Regions from separate parts of the Homo sapiens genome. Here region 2 is linked to region 1. A link means that fine-mapping ties the variant in region 1 to the expression of a gene that starts in the linked region. Tissue or cell type: whole blood. Region 1 holds a variant in brackets; the other region holds the start of a gene. All regions are shown on one strand. Distances are between the middles of the regions.

Region 1 (8,192 bases):
GGGCTCAAGTGATCCTCCCACCTGAGCCTCTCGATTAGCTAGGACTACAGGTACATACCACCATGCCTGGCTAATTTTTAAATATTTTGTAGAGATGGAGTCTTGCTATGTTGCCCATGCTGGCCTCGAACTCCTGGCCTCAAGTGATCCTCCCACCTTGGCCTCCCAAAGTGTTGTGATTACACGTGTGAACCACTGCGCCCAACCCACGGTCAAAATTCTTGAAGGATCTGCCCACACGCACTTGGTGGATCTCTTTTTTCTCTGCTTCTTCCTCTCCAAGTGGACTGTTGTCCTCTCCCTGTCAACCCAATTGCTCTTCTCGAGGTCACTGGTAACTCTGTGTGGCCAAATTCAGTGGCCCCTGTCTTTATTGTACTTGACTTCTGAGCTACATCTACTACTCCCTTTCACTTAAGGCCCCTGCTTTGTGGCCATGATATTATCATAATGGCTACACATCCTCCAACACAGAGGACACTCCCTCTTCGCCAAGCAAGGAATTGGCAGACTTGAAATGCCAACAGTGCTGAGGTTGAGAAACCCGGGGATAAAATGATATATTGCTGGGGTTAATTCTTTAGATGAGAGGTCTGCAAACTATGGTCAGTGGGCCAAATCCTGACTGTTTTTGGGAATAAAGTTTTATTGGCACATAGCCATGTCTGTTTATGCAATGTTGATGGCCGTTTCTGTGCTGCAATGGCACAGCTGAGCAGTTATGATAAAGACAGTAAACGGCCCACAAAACCTCAAATATTAACTATCTGGACCTTTTTCAGAAGAAGCGTGCCCAGGTGTGAGACTGTTTATGGAGAGGGGGTGGCATAATACTCTTTAGTCACTTCTGAGCTCATGAAGGAAAAAACAAAACAAAACAAAAACACACACACAAAACACCTGGTTTCTAAGGCCTGAGTCCAACGGGGCTGATAAATCACAATTCTGCTTGGACACACTGAAAATGGTTAAATGTAACAAACATAATTTCAGCACCTCTAAGAGGTATTTTGTGAACATTTGCCTAATGTTATTTTGAGTTAGGAAAAGCCACAGAAACCATTTGTATTTTCCATGAAATCATAACTGGATTTCTGGTAGAAAAAGTTTCCAAGCAACGTAAGACTCCAAAAAAAAAAACATTTAATAGATGCTACTGAGACATGGCTGGGAAACATGAAATACTGATTTTTTTTAAGTTAAATCATCCTCTGTCTCCACCTGGTGGAATGTAGCGTTGTAGCCTGTTTGAGCCTAATGAGTGGGTGGTGCTAGCTCCTCTGGGGGAAAACTGGCAAGACCCTGATACCCTGATGCTGCCACTCCAGGACAAATAAGCGGGAGATCACTGAGAGTCAGCTGAGGGTGGTTCCATCATTATTTCAATTAAAAAAGCCTTAAGATCAATCCAGGGGCCCATTTCTTCCATGGTGCACCAGTGTGTGGTGGGTGGTGATGTTAAAATGACATCATGGCCAGCTTGGAAGGACAGCAGGGTGTGGAGGAGACCCACACCGAATCCCATCTCTCCCATCCCTGTGCTTCATGGGGGGAAGTGATCTGCTAGTTCCAGTTCACTTTGGTGGGTGCCATCAAGCTGGGCTTAATCAGACGCAGCATGGCATAGAGCCAGGAGCACAAGGCCAGGCCAGCCTGCATGGTGTGAATCCCCACTAGGCTGCTCGCTGTGAACTGCAACAGGGGCTTCACTTTTCTGTGCCTCAGTTTCTGCCTGTAAAAAAGAAGCTCCTAAAAGTACCTGCCTCATAGGGCTATTTTAAAGATTAATCAGTACATGTGCTATGGGTTGAATGTGTCCCCCAAACAGCACATGTTGAAAACTGAATCCCTAATGCAGCTATGTTGGAAGGTGTGGCCTAATGGGAGGTGTTTCAGTGACGAGGGCCTCACCCTCATGAATGGATTCATGCCGATTATAATAGGGTATGAGGCTGCAAGTTCAACCTCTTGCTCTCTCTCCCCTCTCTTTGCCCTTCCACAATGGGATGACTTAGCAAGAAGGCCCTTGCCAGATGCAGGCCCCTTGACCTTGAACTTCCCAGCCTCCAGAACTATAAGAAATAAATTTATTTTCTTTATAAATTATCCAGTCAGTGATATTCTGTTGTAGCAACACAAAACAGACTAAAACATGTAAAGAATCCTTTAAAACAGTGCCAGGCACATAGTTAGTACCTGATAAACAGCAGTTACTATTAAGTTGCCTGCTCTACTCTATGAGGATGTATAAGTAGAGGTCCCACCTAGCCTTGCTGATGTAACTAGGGATGTTTTCGTGGTAGAGTTTCAGAAACCACTTGGGCAGCATCTCTCCCAGGTAATACTCCTTTTCATGCTCGAGGCACTAGGAATTATGGGAAGAGGAACTCAGCAAGGCTCCTAAAGGATGTAATTCATAACAATGTAGTACCCTTCCAGTCAGGTGGACTCATTGAGAAGTACACTGGAATTCTCTACTGGAGGCTGTGGGAGGGAATCACCCATCTTACCATCAATGGCATTTTCTACCTAAAGCAAAAAACAAAGTAAACCAAAAGGAAAGAGCAGTGGTCAGAAGCCCAGGTCTGCATTCGGACAAAACTGGGTTCAAATCTCAGTTCTGCTCTTTACTGGCACTGTGATTTAGGTCAAGTCATTTTACCTAATTTTTAAACCCTTATTTGTAAAACAAAGATAAAAAAACAGTATCTGTATCACATGGAGTTTCTATGTAAGGATTAAGTGAGCTCACACACATAAAGCATGTAACAAAGTAAATGCTCAGTAAATGTTAGCTATTATAATTACTATCTCGTTACTTTTTTTCTTTAGCTGTTGTTGTTTTTTAAATTATACCTAAAAGGGGAGGATAACAAATAGGTTTTATTTCATGTGTCAACTCTGATTAATTGGTTGTGCAGCTTGAAGCATGACAACAAAAAGTAATTGAGGCTTTGTCTTAAAGTGATAGCAAAGTGTGGTGATTGATTAGTGATGTCTGCCTTAGTCACAGAAGTAAGCGAAGGTGGTAGGATTACCCTGTATGAGCCATCTGTGTTACAGAGAGTTCCTGATTAGATGTTGTAGAGCCATTCTCAAATCATTCAGCGGGGATCCAAACAGAGTAATGCTAGTGAACATAGCTTGGGTGTGAAGGGAAGGAGTGGGAACCAGAGTCCCACCTGCCATTCCTGGGAAAGAGTGAAGTTTTGTAACTTACAGGTTCACTCTCTGAAGATATCCATCCTTACAAGGCTCTAAGATAACAGAATGGCCATATTCTGAGTCTGCAACAGGACTACATACCCATCCCAAAGATGACACGAAGAAGAGTTTTGAGGTCTAAGTTCTTTTTTCTGATTGAAGAAACCTCAGGCCATCCTGGCCCAGCTCCCATAGAGCGACTACCCATCATGAACTCAGATTCAGTCCCCGGTCCCCTGCACCTACTTGCCACACTCCTTGCAGGGGAAGATGGTGGTGGGGTCTGTCTCGCCGCTGGTGGTGCTGTGAGAGGGTGAGCTCTTTACCGAACAGTACCCACTCTGGGTGCCACCAGGCTTCTGCTTCCCAGAGGGGATGGCACCTCGGGCCTTGGTCACCTGGTTGGTGCCCCCGTGGATGCGGGCATGGCCATTCAGTGCCTGTCGGGAGCTGAACACCTGGGGAAGAAAGGGAGTGACATGACATCTACAGTCCTGAAAAGGAAATTAGGGTTATTAGTTACTCAGTGGTAAACATGGAATACTTGAAACTGTCTAATGACAGGGCACAAGGGTTTTATATAAGCAAACTTTGGGCATATGCTACAAAAGGTAAAGATCAAATACCACAACCACAGATCCTGTGCCAATCAAAACCTCATCACTGCTACAATCAGAAGAGAAGAAGCGACGTGGCACAGGATAAAGAATAAAGCTACTGTCTAGAAGTCAAGACGTCAGGGGTTTGGACCCAGCTCTACTATAACTAAAGCTGTTGGGCCATTTCCCTTCTGTATACTTTATTTTTTTCCATCTGAGGAATGAGAGGGCTGGACCAGCTTTCAAACTTTTTTTTTTTTTTTTTTTTTTGAGACAGAGTCTCGCTCTGTCACCCAGGCTGGAGTGTGGTGGTGCGGTCTCAGCTCACTGCAAGCTCCGCCTCCCAGGTTCACACCATTCTCCTGCCTCAGCCTCCCGAGTAGCTGGGACTACAGGCGCCCGCCACCACGCCTGGCTAATTTTTTGTAGTTTTAGTAGAGACAGGGTTTCACCGTGTTAGCCAGGATGGTCTCGATCTCCTGACCTTGTGATCTGCCCGCCTTGGCCTCCCAAAGTGCTGGGATTACAGGCGTGAGCCACCACGCCTGGCCTCAAACTTTTTTAAAGATGATAACTACCTCCTTCTTTTCCTCCCATTTTTCTTCCTTCCTTCCTCTTTCCCTCCCTCCTTCCTTTTTAGGAAATCAGGTCTTACTAAAAAAACTCAGGCTCAAGTTAAAAGCAGAGGTGCTCTGGCTAGAATGGAGACAG[T/C]GCCCCAGAATTGCGCCTGTTTGCTCAGCTCTATCTACCCCGAGGAAGCCCTAGCACCCTAAGGAATCCAGTTTGAAAGACAGTGATTAGGTTTTCTGACGTATTCTACGTTGTAGATAGCCTTAATCAGTAGCCCATTGTTGAAGCAATGTTTAAGACCCCCAAATTTTAATACAGATGATAAAAAGAAGAAGGATCTTGGCAGAATTTTAAAATCCTGCCATAAAGCTGGGTTTTCTTAACATCAGCACTACTATCATTTTGGGCTGGATAATTCTTTGTTGTGATGGGTGGGGGGCTCTGTTGTATAGGATGTTTAGCAGCATCTCTGGCCCTACCAGATGCTAGCAGCACCTCCGCATTTATGATAAAAGTTATGATAAATTCCAGACACTGCCAAATGTTCTTGGGGAATAAATCATCCCCAGTTCAGAACCACCGCTATAAAGGGGTGTAAATCCATATCCCTGAATCCAATGAGTCCTGGCTTCCAGCTTGTTAAACTCATCAGCTAAGGGGAGTACCTACTGGGCTGTCTAGCTGTAGTAGTTGCTGTATTAAGTTTATGATCTCTGTTTTTTTTGTTTGTTTGTTTGCTTGTTTTTTTTTTTTCAGATGGAGTCTCACTCTGTCACCAGGCTGGAGTGCAGTGGCATGATCTCAGTTTACCGCAACCTCTGCCTCCTGGGTTTAAGCGATTCTCCTGCCTTAGCCTCCCAAGTAGCTGGGACTACAGGCGCGCACCACCACGCCCAGGTAAGTTTTGTATTTTTAGTATAGTAGAGACGGGGTTTCACCATGTTGGCCAGGATGGTCTTGATCTCTTGACCTTGTGATCCACCTGCCTCAGCCTCCCAAAGTGCTGGGATTACAGGCGTGAGCCACCGCGCCTGGCCAAGCTCTGGTTATTTTCTTACATAGGAAAAAACCTATCGCTGACTTAGCAACCAAAGCCTCCATCGTTAGGCAAGGAATAAAATAAAACCAGCACGCTTTTTCCACTGTGATTTTTAAAAGTCATTAAAAAATATCTTTTCCCTTATGTACAGAAAAATTGGAACAGAAAAATATCTAACTTGCTGAGCATTTGATGGGAAAAAGTAAAAGATAACTTCCATTTGGTACACAACTTATTGTACATAGAGCTATGATTTGAGGAGGCATCTAATTTCTGAACAAATTCACCAAGAAATACCATCACTTAAAGTCATTATCGCAATCATGCTGCAGTGAACACTCTATACAAAATGGCCAGGTCATTAAACATCAAAGATGGAAAACAAGCCAGCAATCTCTTCTGTTCTCTTCAAAGTGAATGCAAAATGTATGTATCTTTTTTGTTTTTTTTTTAATTTTCATTTTTTCTTAAATGCAAATCAAATGAATTTCTGCTTTAGGATCTAAATATTTTAAAGACTGTTGCTTTCTCCATCTAAGTGACAGGTAAGCAGCATTCAGTACACTCTGGAGAACAGCACTGTCCTATATCATGTATGAGCAAAGACAAGCACACTGACTTAAGGAAAATGGGCTTCCTCTGCAAGGGGCAACATTATTTTGAGGGGTAATCCCTCTAGAACTTGCCTATACAGGTGTGCCTGGCCTTAAGAAACCTGATTTGGGAAAAGCTCACCAATTCAGACTAGTGGCAGACCAGCGGGAGATTGAGAAATAACCTTTAAAAATATCCTTTAAAATACATATGGAGCCTTAGACAAGGCCAGCACAGATACCGTAAGGTCTTTCTTTAGTGCTAAGAATGACCACATGGTGAACTTGTTTTATTTTAGCTAAATTATGCTTCTAATATTCTTGAAAAGTAGTAGCCTCTGTATTTACACACACTCCCTTTCAGCCTGTTTATATGATTAATTTACTTTTAGTAAATCTTTTTTTTCTCCACCATAGAGTACAAAGATAAACTTTAGTTAAATCTTTGTAACAGTGTTCTCAATTTTAAATTAGTGACATTTCGATTAGTAACACTTTATGAAATGTGAAATGCAAAACCTTCTAAATAGGTAAAATTGCAGGAGGTAGGGCAAGTAATTATGTCATAAAAGGATGATCTTTGTCAGCAGGCTCTCCTAGTACATTTAAATGCATGTTGACAGGGCACAAGCTTGTGTGACACACAGCCCAGGGGAATGCAGAGGCTCCAGGAAATGTGGAATGTATGTTTTGGAGGCCACGCTCACTGCAGAGCTTGGAATCACACACTCCTGGGCATGGGGGCCTTCTCTGTGTTCTCCAACACGCAGCATCATGCTTGACACAGAACACACACTCTGTAAATACCTGTTGGCCAAATGAAGCAGAAAACAATGGCAACATGGAGCACCCTCTGCCAAACTGTGACTGTTGGAAGAGCACTCTCGAAAATACATCATCTCTTAAAGCCAGGCACAGCTATATGGCTCTCACTTGTCCCAGATCCCCAGACGACACAGACACACTTACAGCCCCACAGTTGGGCATTTCACAGATGAAGGAGCCTGAGGGCTGGCCCAGGGCCTGCAGGGGCGGCCCCTCCGTGGGAGCCAGGACGGGGACGGGTGGTGGCTCCGGGGACTTCGGCACCTCACTCTCTTCTTCTTTTGTGGATTTCCTATCTTCTTCCGGGTCCTCCTCCTCCTCCTCCTCTAACTCTTCTTCTTCTTCACTTGTCTAGTGTTAAGGTAATAAAAGCAAGAGGGGAAAATCCCCAAATGGCATTCTTAGTGATGAACAGAACTCACAGATCAACAGAGGAGAGAGGGGCAGGATGCTGGCGCTGTGTTCCTTTCTTTCTGCATAAGGAATGGTGGACAGAGCCTGTTAGGCGTGATCCTCAAAAGGTTGGTCTCCGGATGCTTAGGACTTCGAGGTCAAGGAAGTAAGTCCCCTGCCCCACTTCGGGACCCCTCATCACTTATATAAAGATATGGTGAGGCAGAGAGGAGCAATTTCTACATGCAAGGATTCCCCACCTTGTTCGAGACTATCAGATCTTAAAATGACTAAAACTCAGGCTGCGTCCTGCCTGTAAGTAGCTCTGTCTCCTCACAGAGGTGAAGAGGGGTTTCCAGCAATAACAATACCATGGAATCCCCCTTGGAGAGAGACTAAAGAAGGACCTGTGCTGATTTGTTTTAGAGGCTTTATAACACACCATGCAAGATACTGGATTTGACCTGCGGTGTGCAGAAAGCACGTGACTCAAGGGGAGCTCCACTCTGGTCTTGTCAGAAAATAGAGTGAAAGGAGAGAAAATGGAAGGGGAGATTCCCTTTTATTTGTCATGTGCTTTTCCTTTTGTCTCTGACCATGGGCTTAGAAAAAGCAGTGTATTCAATGTTTCTATTTATTCATTTTCTCCTACCAGAGGCATTTAATGAAAAAGAACAAGAAAAACTTTTCCTATGAATAATGATCTCCTCTGCTTCTATGGCCACTCTCCCCACTTCAGAACAGCAGCCATGTGGAGAATTAAGCAGAAGGTCCCTGCCCTCCTCAAGGTTAACAGAATAGTAAGTTACTGGAATAGCTTGGAGTGGGTGCCCTGGGTGTGCTGGGATGGAAGGGCAACGATCCAGGAGGCTCTCATTCTCCCCTTGCTTAACTACTTTATTCTGCTCTCTCCAACCTTCCCAGGGTAGGGGTGAGGGCTGCTGGCTCCTGCAGGCCCCAAAAGGGCTG
Region 2 (8,158 bases), 39 kb before region 1:
ATCAGATCCCCCAGGAGTGCCTGTCATTCACATGACTTTGTTATCAGAAATGACACTGATGGCCCAGAGCACTTCTGTCCCACTGGGTCAGGCCACTCAGGAGCCCCAGCCCCAGATCAAGGGGTGCCTCAGTGAACAAGGTTTGAGCAACAGGAGAAAATGGCAGAAAATGAGGGAAACAGCAAGAAGCCTAAGGAAAAACTAAGAAGAAAACAAAACGAGCTTACCTTAGTACCTGAAGTGTTCTATTCATATCTTTTATATAATTCCTATAAATATATGGTCTCCGTACTCCCCATCATATACTTATCTAATTGAGGTCAGATTATATTTATAATTTTGTTTCCTTCATTCTCATGTAACATTTTCTCATGTCTTTAAAAATTAGTTAAAATGTCAACTTCCATTTTTTTTTTTTTTTTTGGTGGGGAGGGGGTACTGAACATTCCCTTTGTTGAATATATTTCTAATATTTTCCATTAAACAATGAACTTTTTTTTTGCACGTATACCTTTTCTTATATCTCTGGTATTTCTTTTTTTAGGGTAGACACTTAGCAATGGTTGTCAGTTCTTTAAAAGGCTATTTTCTCGAGTAGTTGTTACTTATTAAGCTTACCACAAATCAATCTTGTGTTTCTTATTTAATGAGAATTAGTTATTATCCCCATTTTATGGATGAGGAGCCTGAGACCCAGAGGTTCCCAGGCCACCCAGCCAGCAAGTGGCAGAGCTTTTCCAGGCATGCATCTCCTCCAGTGCATCACGTCGGAAGAACTTGCAGTCTCCACTTAAGATCTATTTCTGTCCAGCAAATAAGCCTAGTGCTTGGGGGTGCCAAGAGAAGAAAAACAAAAACAAAACCTGAAACCACTCACAAATCCCCACTCTCTAGATCTCCAGAGTCTTCCTCATTCTTTGTCCAGAAGCTTCTATTCCTACAACATCCTCTCTCAACATGATTCAGTTTCCATGACTCCTTGCCTTATATGAGACATATTCCAGAGTGATCTCTAGACAAGTGATCTCATCTGAGAGGTTACTGGAAACCCCAGGACCATTTCTGGGAAACGTCCAGCTGGGACTAATCTCATCTGCTATGCATGGGACCTTGTCAGCTCCAATTACCCACAGAGGCCTGAGAGTGATGGAAATGGCTCTGTCTACTCAGGAATAGGATGGGCGTGTCACCGGCTCTGTGGGATTATCTGCCCTGTTTCTCCTTGAATTGGCCATATTTGTGCACCAGCCCTGACTTCAATGCATGTTATATAAGAATCCTAAATGACATCTGATCTTCACCCTCCCCTTTCTTCCATTCCAGGCGGTCATAGGGCAACCACGAGAGTTGCAAGGGAGAGTGGCAGAGACGAGGTGTTCCTACCTTTTTGTCCCCACCAAACCGGTTTCCATCACCTCACATTTTCACGTGTGAACCACATCTATAAACACTTTTGATTGGATTTGCTTTAGAAATCTCAGACCGATTGTTCCGAAATGACACTCCTTGATATAAGGGGGAATGGAGTCAGGTGTAGGTTTGGAGACAAAGACTAAGTGGGAAAGAAGGCTCAGTCCCTGAGAGAGGAACTGAAAAACACTTTCTAGGGAGGCTCTTCCTTACAGTGGAATGCCAACTAATAAATAGAGAAGGGGTGATGGGGTTAGAAAATTATCAACAGATGCCAAAGCCAGTAGAAAATTTGACTGAACAATAGGATATTTACTTAGTCTCAAGATATATCCTTACATGTTGCTTATTAATTACAAAGAAAAAAATAGTAACTTTACAATGTTGAAACATGGCAGATACCACCTTAACCAAGTGATCAAAGTTAACTACGCCAGTGATGGGACAAACTGATGTCTTGTACCGGATGGTATGATGAACCGAGGACACAACATCACATCAGTGGCAATTCTACCAATTTAGACAAACGCCAGTTGTGGGCTGTCCTACAACATAACTCAGCTGCAGTCTTCAAAAATGTCACAGTCAAATAAAAAAGAAAAGCTGAGATTAAAGATTCCAGGTTAAAGAAGACTAAGGAGATACAACAAGTAAATGCAATGTATGATCATACAAAAAAAAAAAAAGAAAAAAAAAAAGAAAAAGGAAGGCCAGGCATGGTGGCTCATGCCTGTAATCCCAACACTTTGGGAGACCGAGGCGGGTGGATCATGAAGTCAAGAGATGGAGACAATCATGGCCAACATGGTGAAACCCCATCTCTACTAAAAATACAAAAATTAGCTGGGCATGGTGGTGCTCGCCTGTAGTCCCAGCTACTGGGGAGGCTGAGGCAGGAGAATCGCTTGAACCTGGGAGGTGGAGGTTGCAGTGAGCCAAGATCATACCACTGCACTACAGCCAGGGTGACAGAGCGAGACTCCAACTCAAAAAAAAAAAAAAAAAAAAAAAAAAAGAGAGAAAAGAAAAGAAAAGAAAAGAAAAAGGAAAAAAGAAAGAAACCTGGCCGGGTGCAGTGGCTCATGCCTGTAATTCCAGCACTCTGGGAGGCCGGGGTGGGCAAATCACTTCAGGTCAGGAGTTCGACACCAGTCTGGTCAACATGGTGAAACCCCGTTTCTACTAAAAATACAAAAATTAGCCAGGCATGGGAGTGTGCACCTGTAATCCTAGCTACTCAGGAGGATGAGTCATGAGAATTGCTTGAACTCAGGAGGTGGAGATTGCAGTGAGCTGAGATTGTGCCACTGCACTCTAGCCTGGGCAACATGGCGAGACCTCATCTCTACCAACATAAATAAATAAATAATACAAAAATTAGCAGGCATGGTGGTGCACACCTGTAATCCCAGCTACTTGAGAGGTTGAGGTGGGAGGATCCCTTGAGCCTGGGAAATCAGAGGCCGCAAAGAGCTGAAATCATGCCACTGGGTGACAGAGCGAGACTCTGTCTCAAAAACAAAAAAGAAAATACACACTGAAATACTTAGGGATAAACGGGCATGATATCTATAGCTTTCTCTTAAAAAAAGTATATGTATAAATTATGTATCATGTATATGTATATATACTTATAGGATACATTATATATATGTATGTATACAGAGAGAGGCAGAATGATAAAGTAAATGATATAAAATGTGAATAACTGGGGAAATTTGGATAAATTGCATATGGGAGTTACTTGTATCATTCTTATAACTCTTCTGTAAATTTAGAATCATAGTAAAATTAAAAAGTTATTCAAAAAGGAAAAAACATTGATGAACATCATATGCCGATTTATAAGAAGAGATGAGGTATAAGGAGTACAACTATATGCCTAGGGGCTTAATCAGCCCTTTGGATCTTGAATCATGATCGTATTGATTTTTAGATGAATCTGGGGAAGATTGATGGACTTAAATGAGTCTTATTATTTATGACCTGATATATTTGTTTACTTTTCTTACATTTTAAAAAAACATCAATTATTTTAAAAAGTCATCTTCTCTCTTTAAAAAACCTGCCTTCTAGGCAGGAGCACTTAAGACCTTGGGCAAATCGATTCATTCCCTTTTGCCCAGCTTTCTCATCATTTAATTTGGAATAACAAAAGTCTGCCCCTCCCACCCAGGGTTGCTGCTGATTCAGAGGAGACCTAAGAGAGGCGGAGCGCTGAGAAGTCCGAAACTGGCTCTGTGCCCTGTGGGGTGGTCGATGGGGTTCATCTCTAAGGAGGTTCTGTTGAATTGAAGGTGCTGACCTCACCCTCCTGTCCCGGGACAGGCACTGTGGGGACGTGCACTGACTGGTACCAGCGACAGGATGAGACCTGAAGTGGCATTCCCAGTGATTCAGCTTAGAAAGCTAAGTTCTCCACGCACTGAGGAATGGAGAACTGACACTTTCTTCAGATTAAATTGGTATTTGAGGCAAATACCAGGGCATTTGAGGTATTTGAGGTATTTGAGGATTGCCAGGGCACTGAACTGGATAACCTTAAATAATCAAGGGGTTTTTAACTGAATTGAAATTTAAAATTCAATCCCCTGGTGCATTTACAAGATGTGTTATCTTCTTAGCTGCTAGTGACATTGTGGGCTTAGAGAAACTCTAGTCTGAATGATTTAATGAAACCTTCCAGGACTTGAAGAGCTGAAAGGGGCTTTTGCAGTCATTCGCCCAGTCTCCCAATACATGCAGGAGCCTCTTCCAGCATTCTTGACAGGGAGGATCTGACCAGTCTCAGAAGAACCCCAACAAGAGGGAGCTCATAGCCCATGCTAAGATACCTTGTCTCATTTAGAACATCTCTTTTGCTCCTAGTGTTTAGAGTGACAGGGGCTCTGGCAGATGCGAAAACCCGGTCATTGGGCTGCAGAGTCTTGGTCAAAAATACACAAAGAGAGGACCTGGACTGTCTGCCAGTCGCCCTTCAGCTCTCAAGAAGAGGACACAGGGAGCATCAGCCGACAGCTAAGAGATGGAGGGAGGGAAGGAGAGACAGAGAAGATGGAAAGGGACAAAAGGAAGAGAAGAGACAGAAGGGTTTGGTGAGTGAGACAGAAAAGGTAAAGAGAGACGGAGTGGAAAGAAGAGCAGAGAAAGAGCCGAGGAGTGGGGAACTGGGAGCTCTCCCTGAGGACACTTGTGGAGGAAGGCGCCAGGTGGACTGGCCACTGGTCCTTCCCTTCAGGGTGCCTTACCCCATTCTTGTCGAAGGCTCGGAACATGCCCTCTACATACTGGGAGGCCTCCTCATCGTCTGTGACCTTGAAGAAGCGCTTAAACTCATGCATAAAGAGTGTGCCGCTGGGGCACTCCATCACAAACTTCTTGTACCACTCCTGGAGCTCCGCCACATCTATCTCGCCAGCTGCCTCCGCCTCCTCCCAGCTAAACTCCTGCCCCATGCTAGCCCTGAGGAGCATCAGGGAGCAAGGGTCTGTATCTCCTCCCTGGCTTCTGCTGATGGATCTCTCCAACTAGGGCCCTCTTCCTCCCTTTCCAGGAGGCCTGATCAGCCTCTCCATCATCTCCTGGGTGACTGAACATGATCAGTCGGTGCAGGGGGCAGGTGGCAAGGGAGGTGGGTCCAGGCCAGCTAAGCTGCCCTAAGACTATTAGAAGATTCCCCAGGTGGCCGGGTGCGGTGGCTCATGCCTGTAATCCCAGCACTTTGGGAGGCCGAGGTGGGTGGATCACAAGGTCAGGAGTTCGAGACCAGCCTGGCCAACATGGTGAAATCCTGTCTCTACTAAAAATACAAAAAATTAGCTGGGCATGGTGGTGGGTACCTGTAATCCCAGCTATTCAGGAGGCTGAGGCAGGAGAATCACTTGAACCTGGGAGATAGAGGTTGCAGTGAGCTGCGATCACACCACTGCACTCCAGCCTGGGGGACAGAGTGAGACTCTGTCTCAAAAAAAAAAAAAAAAAAAAAAAAAGAGATTCCCCAGGAAGTTCTGACCTCCAGCCTAAACTCCTCCAGCCTCACTCCTTCCCTTAGCCTTGTCAACAAAGCAACCAAGCTGGCCCTGGTAGACTCTGAAGAGGTAGAAGGGGAAGAAACTGAGAGGTAAGCAGAGAGATGCAGAGTGAAGAAAGAGTCGGGGTGCTAGGCTGGGATCCTCCCATCTCACTCACTCCCTATCTCTTTAGCTGGGCCTCACATTGCTTCAGGGAGGCCCATCTTGGAGACAGGAGACTCAAATCCAGAGAGGAAGTGAGATCAAGTCCTAGGCCATAAAACAGAATCTGCTGGTGATCTGGGACTCGCCCCTCAGACGGTCTAGTGAAAAGAGGCAGAATCTATGATGGGAAGGGCTCTAGGTGAGCAACTCTCTTCCCAGGCTAACTCGGTCCCTGAAGCTCCTTTCCAGATTACACCTTTCATCTTGGGAGCTTTTCACTTTCTGATTTAAACTACAAATGCCTCCCTCCAACCCTTCACACAAGACCTAGGGGTAGTGCCTTTTTCACATTTCCTCCAAAATACTAACATGTGAGAAGGATCTGGGAGCATGGCCTAAAATATCTTTGAAGGCTCTTACTTTTACATTATAGGTCATGTAAAATTTGCTTTTGAACAATTACATATTCATGCTTATTTTAATGTAACATAAAAATGACACCTCCAAGAAATCAAAAGACCAGGGACACACATTTTTCTTTTTCTTTGCTTTTTTTTTTTAAATTTCTATTTTTTGAGACAGGGTCTCGCTCTGTCGCCCAGGCTGGAGTGCAGTGGTGTGATCTCGGCTCACTGCAACTTCCGCCTCCGGGTTCAAGTGATTCTCATGCCTCAGCCTCCCGAGCAGCTGGGATTACAGGTGCACACCACAACACCCAGCTATTTTTTCTTCTTTTTTTTTTTTTTATTATACTTTAAGTTCTAGGGTACATGTGCACAACATACAGGTTTGTTACATAGGTATACATGTGCCATGTTGGTTTGATGCACCCAGCAGCCAGCTAATTTTTGTATTTTTAGTAGAGATGGGGTTTCATCATGTTGGCCAGGCTGGTTTCAAACTCCTGACCTCAAGTGATCCACCCGCCTTGGTCTCCCAAAGTGCTGGGATTATAGGCATGAGCCACCACGCCCAGTGACACTCATTTTTCTAGAAGACTTCAGAGGCAGCAGTTCCAGTGAATCTATCCTTAACCTACCCATCCCTCACTGGGTGTTCAGCCTGAATTGTTTTGCACATCTCCAGGCCTGACCTCCTCTCTCACTGTTCTCTGCCTCCAGACGTCACTGAGCTCTGAAAGCTCTTTTAACTTTCTTGCTATTCCTGAAGGAGAAATGTGATTTCTTCTGTCATCCTTTCAAGTGGTGGTGGGTTTTTCTCCCCCACACACACCTCAAGGTCTAGATAACAGGGCTAGTGTCCTCCTCGCTTCTAACTCTTGCCTCCAAATGGCCTTTTACTTTTTTCTCCCCAAAAAAGGCCAGTCCCTTTGAAGCCACATCTGACTCCTTGCCACTATTTACTTCTCCTCATTACTGTCATTCACTGGTGACTTCCCTGCTTGTCTCAAAGCATCATGTCAGTCATTTCAGTGACTGTGACCTCCAAGTGGATAAACAGCCCATCCCATACACTGGCCTCAAAGGTACTTGATCTCTCTCTCTTTTTTTTTTTTTTTTTTGAAACAGAGTTTTTGCTCTTTTCACCCAGGCTGGAATGCAGTGGTGCGATCTCGGCTCACTGTGAACTCCGCCACCCGGGTTCAAGCGATTCTCCTGCCTCAGCCTCCCTAGTAACTGGAATTACAGGTGCCTGCCACCATGCCCGGCCAATTTTTCTATTTTTAGTAGAGATGGGGTTTCACCATGTTGACCAGGCTGGTTTCGAACTCCTGACCTCAGATGATCTGCTCGCCTTGGCCTCCCAAAGTGCTGGGATTACAGGCATGAGCCACTGCGCCCGGCCCCAGTGAGATGTGTGGGGGTCACACTGCCCTCTTAGTCTCTAATTGCTGGCAACCTGGCATGGTCCCACATGCGTAAGCCACCGGGCCTGGCCTGGTCCTTGATCTCTTTAGTTCCAAAGAGCTTTTCTTCCACCTTACCTAGTACTTCCATTCACTTGTGGTCCCTGAGCCACAAGTGCAGCATCTGGGAGCTTGCTAGAAATGCAATGTCTCAGGCCCCACCTCAGACCTGCTGAATCAGGAACTGTGGGCTGGGGCCAGGAGTCTGTGTTTTAACAAGCCCTCCAGGTGCTTCCAATGCGTACTGAAGTTTGAGGATCACCACCCTAGGCCTTGCTGTCACCAATCTCTACTACCTCTGAAACATTCAAACGCTGCCGTCTGTTATCAGCACCCCACCCCTTCCATCTGTTACTGTAATACCTTCACTCCAATAATTCACTAATCTCATTGCGACTTCCAACCTGCTGATCTGTTTTTAACATCTGTCATCTTGCTCATCTCCTCACTCTCCTCCTTATCTTCATTCCATGGCCCAGCATTCTCTCCATTTTGACTTTTGTGCCCCTCTCTCCTCCTAACGCCTCACTTGGCCTGGCCCTGGTTAAGGCTGTTCACTAACTATGCAGTAACACTTTGCCTACAGTGGGGAGCCTGGACATCATTGGAGGACATCATAAATCATGCTGGCTGTACGCACTTCAGATCATGCCAGACAATCATACTACATACTCTTCCTGCCGAATTCCCTCTCCCCCTCTCTGAG

What was found. PIP is the estimated chance that this variant, and not a neighbour inherited with it, causes the effect.
Region 2: it holds the start of GUCA1B, and the variant in region 1 is fine-mapped to the expression of GUCA1B in whole blood (TOPMed, PIP above 0.99).

The regions. Positions count from the first base shown.
Region 1 is chr6:42,229,231-42,237,422 of GRCh38, forward strand. TRERF1 (transcriptional regulating factor 1) reads right to left here. Exons shown (of 18, transcript NM_001395490.1): 16 at 6,975-7,181; 17 at 3,451-3,698. It overlaps LOC105375061 (a long non-coding RNA gene), which reads left to right. Exons shown (of 4, transcript XR_001744122.2): 2 at 5,130-5,270; 3 at 5,564-5,838; 4 at 7,186-7,274. Among named protein-coding and RNA genes, the nearest start is that of MRPS10, 15 kb to the left of the region's middle. RefSeq lists an enhancer at 7,268-7,427. The variant T/C (reference allele first, on the strand shown) is at 4,515.
Region 2 is chr6:42,189,956-42,198,113 of GRCh38, forward strand. It overlaps GUCA1B (guanylate cyclase activator 1B), which reads right to left and starts at 5,001. Exons shown (of 4, transcript NM_002098.6): 1 at 4,659-5,001. The coding sequence starts at 4,865. RefSeq lists a cis regulatory region at 7,492-8,158.